Regions from separate parts of the Homo sapiens genome. Here region 2 is linked to region 1. A link means that fine-mapping ties the variant in region 1 to the expression of a gene that starts in the linked region. Tissue or cell type: whole blood. Region 1 holds a variant in brackets; the other region holds the start of a gene. All regions are shown on one strand. Distances are between the middles of the regions. Region 1 has its middle 33 kb from the start of MB21D2. Region 2 holds the start of MB21D2 (Mab-21 domain containing 2).

Region 1 (4,400 bases):
CTCCTGTCAGAGAGTTCTCAAACAGGACACCAAGAACATGATCCGTTAAAACGAAAAGTTGATAAACTGGACTTCATAACAATTTAAGAAGTTTGCTTTGTAAAATACATTATTAAGATAATGAAAATACAAGCTATGAACTGGATGATGAAAATAGTTGTGAATCATATTTCTGATGAAGGACTCCGAATATATAAAGAATTCTTAAAACTCAATGGTAAGAAAAACACACTTTTTTAAATGGGCAAATATCTTGAATAGACACTTTGCTAAAGAGGATATAGATGGCAAATAAGCACAGAAAGGGATGTTTAGCATCTCTTTAATGAGCACATGAAGAAGTTCAAATAGAAAAAATGCAAATTAAACCACCATGAGATACTATTAAACACTTTTTAGAAAGGCTGAAATTAGGCCAGGCACGGTGGCTCATGCCTGTAATCCCAGCACTTTAGGAGGCGGAGGTGGGCGGATCACCTGAGGTCAGGAGTTCAAGACCGGCCTGACTAATATGGTGAAGCCCTCTCTCTACTAAAAATACAAAATTAGCCTGGCATGGTGGCACATGCCTGTAATCCCAGCTACTTGAGAGGCTGAGGCAGGATAATCACTTGAACCCGGGAGGTGGAGGTTGCGATGAGCCGAGATCATACCATTGCACTCCAGCTTGGGCAACAAGAGTGAAACTCCATCTCAAAAAAAAAAAAAAAAAAAAAAAAAGGAAGAAAGAAAAAAGGAAAAGAAAGGCTGAAAAGAAAAAAAGAAAACAGTAACTGACAATACCAAGTGCTGATAAGGATGTGGAGGCACTGGAGCTGTAATATTTTGCTGGTGAGAAGTCAAGATACAACCATTCTAGAAAAGGTTGGCAGTTGTAAGGTTAAACAAATGCTTACCATGTGACCCAACAACCTGACTCCTAGGTATTTATCCCCACAAAACAAACACTTACCTTTACACAAAATCTTACATGTAATGCGTATAGCGACTCTATTCATGATCTCCAAAACCTGAGACAGCTCAAATTTCTTTCAACAGATGAATGGATAAATAAATGTGATACATCTGTATTACAGAAAATTACTCAGCAATGTAAAGGAAGAGACTATCGTTCCATGCAGCAGCAAGAATGGAGTTCAAAGACATTATACTGAGTGGAAGAAGTCAGTTCGAAAAGGTTATATACTACAAAATTCCATTTATGTCACATTCTCACAAAGAAAAAGACTATGTGACAGAGACCAGATCACTGAGTTCCAGGGGTTAGCATGGGAGGAAGGTGTGATTACAAATGGGTAAAGCGATGGTACTGATTTGTATACTGATTGTAGTGATGCTTGCATGAATCTACACACGTATTAAAATTCTTAGAACTGTACATCAGGAAAGCCAATTTTATTATATAAAATTTAAAAAAAAATTTAATGAAAGAACTAATAATTATCAAGACCTTGAATCCAGATTCCATTACTTTATAGCTGCGCTATATTGAACCAGGTACTATTTTCCTTAAGCCTCAGTTTTCTCATCACCTAAAATGTGTATAAGAGTATCTACATCGTGGCCGGGCGCAGTGGCTCACGCTTGTAATCCCAGCACTTTGGGAGGCCGAGGAGGGCGGATCATGAGGTCAGGAGATCGAGAACATCCTGGCCAACATGGTGAAACCCTGTCTCTACTAAAATACAAAAAATTAGCAGGGTGTGGTGGCGCGTGCCTGTAGTCCCTGCTACTCAGGAGGCTGAGGCAGGGGAATCACTTCAACCCAGGAGGTGGAGATTGCAGTGAGCCGAGATCGTGCCACTGCACTCCAGCCTGGAGACAGAGCAAGACTCTGTTT[CAAATAAATAAAT/C]AAATAAATAAATAAATAAATAAATAAATAAATAAGAGTATCCACATCTCATAGGGATGTTTGGTGAATTATAGGAGGCCATGTGTATATAGTTGTATGCACAGTGGCATATTAGTGAATACACAATAAATTTACCTGTTAATATGGGGTCATTATTTTCAGAAGAAAAATCTTTAGAGGAGGCTGAATGTTATGGTGATAAGGAACAAAAGCTTTAATAAACAGTCATACTTAGCTTTGAATTGCTTATCATCTTGGACACGTTAATCACTCTCTCTGAACTTTAGTTTCCTAATCCAAGAACAGTGATAGTAATATTCACTTTATTATATTGTGATGAGCATAACCATTAATATACATATAATGTCTGGTACTCAGTGAGTGTTCAATAAACGATAGCTGTAATTATGATTTCGAGTGGTTCAATAAGTAAAATATGATTTCTTCTGACATTTAAAAATTACATTTACAAATATGTAATTCTAAATGATTAATTATGCAACAAAAGAAAGAGCTGACGTTATGCAAATGTTTTCATTTGTACTGGGCTGGCCATTCACACATATTTTCCTATTCATAGCCAAAATAGTAATTGGTTGAAATGAGCACTGTTGCATTTTAATGAGCCCTTAAAAGGGCAAAAAAATTCTTCTAGTATAATACAGAATGGATTTTCCATGACAGTGTGTATTTTTCTATTTTGTTATTTTAATTTGCAAATGGAGTCCACAGGTGTATAAATGACCTTCCTCATTTCATAATGCTTTCCATCTCTCATCTCAAGGATGTGTTTTAAAGTAAATTAAAGTTAGAGCCAAAGCAGCCCAGGGCCGGCTAGAAAGGCCTGGTGGCCTCTATGGGCTAGATGTGTAGAGACAAGCTGAATTTCTCCTGGGTTTATGTTTTTTTTCAGTTTGCTTATCATCATTGTCATCATCATCATCATCATCATCATCATTATCATCAACCAGGCTCTGATTATCCAAGAAAGGCTTTTTGGTTCTATAGCACCTCCGATCATATTGAACATTATTTAAGCTGTTTTTTGCTGTTTCTTTTCATTCATAGATCCATGAAAAGGGAAACTGTTGCTTTAAGATAATAAAGGATGCACATTTTAACAAAGGATACCACTCTGTCAGCCAGATGTGTAAAAACACACCTTCAGCAAAAGACATTTCTCATAAGTTAGATTATCTTTCACTGTGAATTAAAAATGTTCTGAAATGGCTGATACGGTTTTACTGCTGCTTATGAATGGCATTCTAGAGGTTATTGATGGGAATGGAAGAACAGAATACTTGAAGCACAAAGCTGGAAAGGATCTTAGAAATTTAGCCTAATATTGTTATCATATCAAAGACGAAAATGGAAATCTAGAGAAGAAAGTACCAGGCACGTGTTATCCAACAGGCAAGAGGCAGAGTCAAGATGAAAACCCAGGTCTCCTGCCTGCAGGACAGGTTAATTTTCTCTATATCACATCATCTCTTCAACAACATCTCTCTGTTTTTTCTGTTCTACTTTTTAACCCCACGTTCGCAAAGTTTATTTAATTACTTTGGTTCATAGAATACTATCATCATTAATGCATACTGAGACTCTTTCATGTTTTATTATTGTACATTTTTTCTCCACTCATAATTGTCATTCCCAGCCCTTTCTCCCCCTTAGACACTTATTCTACTGTATTTGCTATGTCCTTAAGTATGAAAATGCTGCTTTATCTATGGATTTTTATTTACTTAAATGTACTGTGCTAGACATTTTCATTCAATACTGTGCTTTTAGGTCTGTCCATGTGACTACATGTTAATTTGCTCTGACCATGGCTTAGAATTCCAGACTATTAACTTATCACATTTTACTCATCTATTCCTCTCTGGTGAATACTAGGTAACTTCTATATTTAATACCACAAACAATGCTGCCACAATTAAGTTCTTTTGTTTAAATATGGAGTCTCCTTATGTGGCCTAGGTTGGACTCAAACTCCTGGGCACAAGTGATCCTCCTTCCTCAGCCTCCTGAGTAGCTGGGACTGCAGGTGTGTGCCACTGTGCCTAGCTTTATCTTGTATTTGTCTCTTAGTGAACTCATGGGAGAAATGTTCTGGGTATATCCATTGTTGGGATTGTTGGGTCATAAGGTACAACCATTCCTTTCTTTTCTTTTCTTTTTTTTTTTTTTTTGAGATAGAGTCTTGCTCTGTCGCCCAGGCTGGAGTGCATTGGTGTGATCTCATCTCACTGCAACCTCTGCGTACCTGGTTCAAGTGATTCTCCTGCCTCAGCCTCCTGAATAGCTGGGATTACAGGCACCTGCCACCACTCCTGGCTAATTTTGTGTGTTTTTAGTAGAGACTGGGTTTCGCTGTATTAGCCAGGATGGTCTTGAACTCCTGACCTCATGATCTGCCTGCCTCAGCCTCCCAAAGTGCTGGGATTACAGGCGTGAGCCACCATGCCTGGCCCAGCCAACTGTTCTTAATGTTGCTAAATATTGCCAGATTTCTTTCTACAAAGGCTGTATGTTTTACACTCAAAAC
Region 2 (4,400 bases), 33 kb before region 1:
GGCAAGAAAGACTGCTTGCAAGGTCAACTGGGTAAAAAGGAATAGAAGCAAATCTAGTTTACCTGTCAACACAATGCCACCCATGGCATTAAACACATGCAAAAATTAAGCACCCTAGAATAATTTACTTTTTTATATTTGGATAAAAGCTTTGCTGATTCAGTGTATCAGCTTTGGAGTTAAGCACAGAAGTTCCTCATGAGCCAGGCACTTAAATTTACCCTCCCTACATTATCCCATTTCCTGACCCATGACTACCCTAACTGGTGGTGACCCAGTACCTTCTTCTAGTAAATGACCTACGCAAGTGACATCAGAACTGATCTGGGGGCTGTATTAACACAATGGCAGACTTCCATTATTTATGCCACAGAGAAAGGCTATGATTAACTAAACAACTTAAGTAACTGCGCTCAGCCTTCTGTGTGTGGCCCCACCTTCCTGACAATCACTGTGTTGGCTTTTGGCTTTGTAAGCATTTTAGGCTTCCCTGTGGAAGCTCACTCCTACCAGGTTTTATATATATATATATATATATATTTAATTCATCTATTCATCTACATAGTTGAACGGCTGAATCTCTCAATAGTTTTTCAACCTCATACGCAACGTAAGACACACTTGAAGAGTGCGGCGCAAAAGGTAAAAACCAGCCTAGAGTTTTAACATGTTTCATCTAACTTCCCAACGCGTGAACAACTACCAGCGGACACAGACACGTTCAGTCTGTATTACCCCGTCCTTGGGCAGTGAGGAAGAAGAAAACCTAGAAGGAAGAAGGTATCCCAGGATAGAAGCAGCAACAGCCGGCTGAAACCCAATTAGATTGCAGGAGAAAGAGAAAAGCCCTGTCTTAGTCTGTGGCCAAAAGACCTTTCCCAATCAAATTTTTCAACACCTGGAAAATTGGCTTATCTATTTGTAGAGAGCACCCAGAGACGAGCGTTAGAGCAGCGCTACCCTGGAGTACCAGTTCTTCGGAATGTTGACCGCCGGCCACGCACCGCTTGACAGCCACGGATCCGCTGGCGGAGCCGCAAGTTACAACCCAGGCGCCTGGCAAACTCACACTACACCTCAGTAGCAATAATCCCAACGGCAGGACACCTGGGGAGGGTGGGCTCGGTCTCCCGGGCCTGGCTCAATTATGTTCCTTTACACAGCATTCAATCATGTTTCAGGAGCCGTAGGTGAGGGGCTGGAGGTGGGAGTGGGGGACACATTTTCTAGCCCCCGACGTCTCCGCGGTTGGAAACTCTGGGCACCTCTTTCGGCCAGCGCTAAGACAATACACAAAGAGCAGGGAACCGGCGCTCCTCTGCGGCCAGAGCTCCGCGCCTAGTCACGGAAGAGCTGGGAATTAAGAATTCCGAGCTCAGCGAGAGCCCTGAAGAAGCACCGGAAATGCTTCCGATCGCTTCATAAGAGAAGTCAATTTGCAAATCAAAGTTGCAGGAACTCCGGACGCCTAGACTACTTCAGCGGGTTACTCGGGAACACCCAACAAGTTTGGCCACCGGGGGCTCGGCATGACAGCGCCGCGCCGCGAGACGACAGAAGCAACTTGTCGCTCGGGCGCCAAGCCAGAGCCCTGAGCCGTCTCCGCTCCCAAGCTCGGGAGAGCACCCAAGAGCCGGCGTCGGGAAAGCGGAGGTCCCTGCCTCCGGCAGCCAAATCCCTCAACTGAAGGCACCTCAGGGGCTCACCTGGACTGCACTCGCTTCCAGGGGCTTCCCCCAACAGTGCAACGCTTCACCGCGAACGCCTCACCTGCCTGCCAGCCCCAGGTGGCGGAGAAATTAACAAAAGAGCAAGCGAACAGGGGGAAAGGGAGACCCGGCGTAAAGTATAGTAAGGAGGGGAGGGCAGGCAGCTCGGCTTTCGGCGGAGAAAGAAGAGAGAGGCGGAACAGAGATGGCTTATACCCAAGGCACCGGCTCGGGAAGGCAACCCAGAAGGGAAGAGGTCGAGAAGCGGCAATGGGTTTTCTACTCCGCTTCCCATCACACACACACACGCACACACACCTCCCCCTTTTTCCTCCTTACCCAGCATGGAAAAGATGAAATCCTTGGCTGTGTGAATCTCCAGCGCTCTCTGGTCGTCGTATTCCCGCTGGTCGTGCTTCGTAAATTCTTGGATGAGTTTGTTCAATTCCTCCACCCGAGCTCCCGACCTGAAATCCAGCTCCGGGAACGCAGGCTTGTTGTTACAGCCCAGGGAGGCTGCCTTGTTGGCGGTGGGAGCCGCCATCTTCATGCAAAACGCGCCGAGTAGCAGCTCCGCGGCAGCGCGGCACCCACCCCCGCCCCCCACCCCGCCCCCCTGGGCCTCCTCCCCTCGCAGGCTCCCAGGCTTTGGCCCCGGCTCGTGGGCGGGTTGGCGGGCGGGCGTCTGGGCGGGCAGTCCCCCGCTCCGTGCGCTCTGGGCGTGCGAGCTTCGGGAGGAGCTGGACTGCAGCGAGGGTGCGTGTGTGGCCCCGACACCCTTTTCTCCGGCCCCACGCCCGCCCCGATGCTGCGCGTCCCTGCCCTGCCCTGGCCCTCTCTGGCAGCGGCAACGGCGGTCGTAGAGCCAACTGGAGCCTCCCCCGGGCGAGGAAAGTGAAGTGGAAACAATGTGAAATTCACCAGCTCTGAAATCAACAAGCTGCCGGCTCCGGTGTTACGGAGCCAGCACCAGCGTCTCCATTTAAAGGGACAGCGCACCCAGTGGAAAGGAAAATAAATAAATGACAGAGGTCTGCACGCATATACCACTTGCCAATCCGTACTTGGGAAGACGCGCGAGGTGTGGATGCATTCTTTCTCCACCTCCACGGCCGTCCCCCCATCCCCTTTCTGGGCAGGGTTTGCCAAGCGCATTCAAGGAGAAGAAAGTCTTCCTCCGTTTGATTTTAAGGGCGGTGTCCTGGGGGAGGACATCTCTGTGCGCGTTTACCTCTCTATCCCAAGAACTCCAATACCTTTAAATAGTAAAGGAAACTGCCTTAAGGAATATGAAACCTGTCTTCTACCCTTTTCCTCTTGGATTGCCAAGATGATAGGATTGAGCGTATAAAAAAAGAGGGTCCACATCTAACCCAGTATTGGCACTCCCACTAACCCCTAGATATCCCTACCTTTGCCCAAGGTAATTAATGACCTGAATAACAGCTTATTTATCTTAACATATAATGAGTTAATGAGATTCAACCTACTCTAATATAAAGATAGGGAAACTGAAGTGTGGGTGTGGGAGAGGGGAAACAATGTATTGCCCCAGGTTCCAAGAAATGTTGGATGACAAGATGAAAATTTTCTCATTCAACAGATAAAATTTGAGTACGCACCATTTGCCAGATGGAGTGACAGAATGTGACAGTGATAACCAAAAGACATGGCTCCTACCATGGAGTTAGGCTTACATGACAAGGCAGGTTCAATCTAAGTCATAGTCCTTTAGGCAGAATAGAGTCTCAGAGGTGGTTTTAGTGTTTATGGGGTGTATCATTCAAACACTTAGGAGGCCCATTGGCTGTGAGAAACATAGGTTATCTTCCTCCCTAATTCTCCAAAATCTCTCTTCTCTATCCCACAGTCCCTGATTTAGATCAGGTCTGTTTCACTTTCTTACCCGAGTTCTCATGGCCAAGAATACAAATTGTTTTGTTAGACATGGAAGGAAGTACGGACTCTTCCATGCCTTCCCCTATAAAATGGGAATAATAATTCCTGTCTCACAGGTTGTTTTAAGGATTACGTGAGATAAAACAGGTCAAGCACTTAGTTCAAGGACTGACATAATAAGTACTTAGCTATTATCAGCTTCTACTATTATTGTTATTAATTCTTTCACTGTTCCTCAATCTAGTAACAACTTGTTGCCAGAGTGATCTTTAGAAAACACAGACCTGACCACTGACCTCCCCCTGGAATTCCTCTCTTCTTTACTCCGTTTACACCAAAACCAATCCGCGTCTGCCTTTTTCTTACAGCTTTCCGGAGACCCTCCCCTCAAGCTGGTGGCAACTTTTCCTTCCTCAGAACCTACTCTCAGAAGCTTTCATATGATGCTAATGAATTTTGACCTTGCTTCATCATTGCTTTTTGTTTTGGGTTGTGTGTGTGTGTGTTTGTTTGTTTCTGAAACAGGGTCTTCCTCTGTAGCCCAGGCCAGAGTGCAGTGGCACAATCGTGGCTCACAGCAACCTCAACCTCCTGGGATTAAACAGTCCTTGCATCTAGATCTCTCAAAGGGATTACAGGCGTGAGCCACCACACCTGACCACTTCATCATTGTTAATGCAAGTTTTAGACTAAAAGATTCTTGGGGATGAGGGCTACATCTTATTCATCTTTGTATTTCCTGCAGCATATGGTCCTACCGAAGGGTCCTCTATGTTTATTGAATCAAGTAAT

The links.
Region 2: it holds the start of MB21D2, and the variant in region 1 is fine-mapped to the expression of MB21D2 in whole blood (INTERVAL, PIP 0.98).

Annotation. Positions count from the first base shown.
Region 1 is chr3:192,948,437-192,952,836 of GRCh38, forward strand. No RefSeq gene overlaps it. Among named protein-coding and RNA genes, the nearest start is that of MB21D2, 33 kb to the left of the region's middle. The variant CAAATAAATAAAT/C (reference allele first, on the strand shown) is at 1,841.
Region 2 is chr3:192,915,582-192,919,981 of GRCh38, forward strand. MB21D2 (Mab-21 domain containing 2) reads right to left here and starts at 2,275. Exons shown (of 2, transcript NM_178496.4): 1 at 2,049-2,275. The coding sequence starts at 2,259. RefSeq lists an enhancer at 1,241-1,570 and a silencer at 2,221-2,580.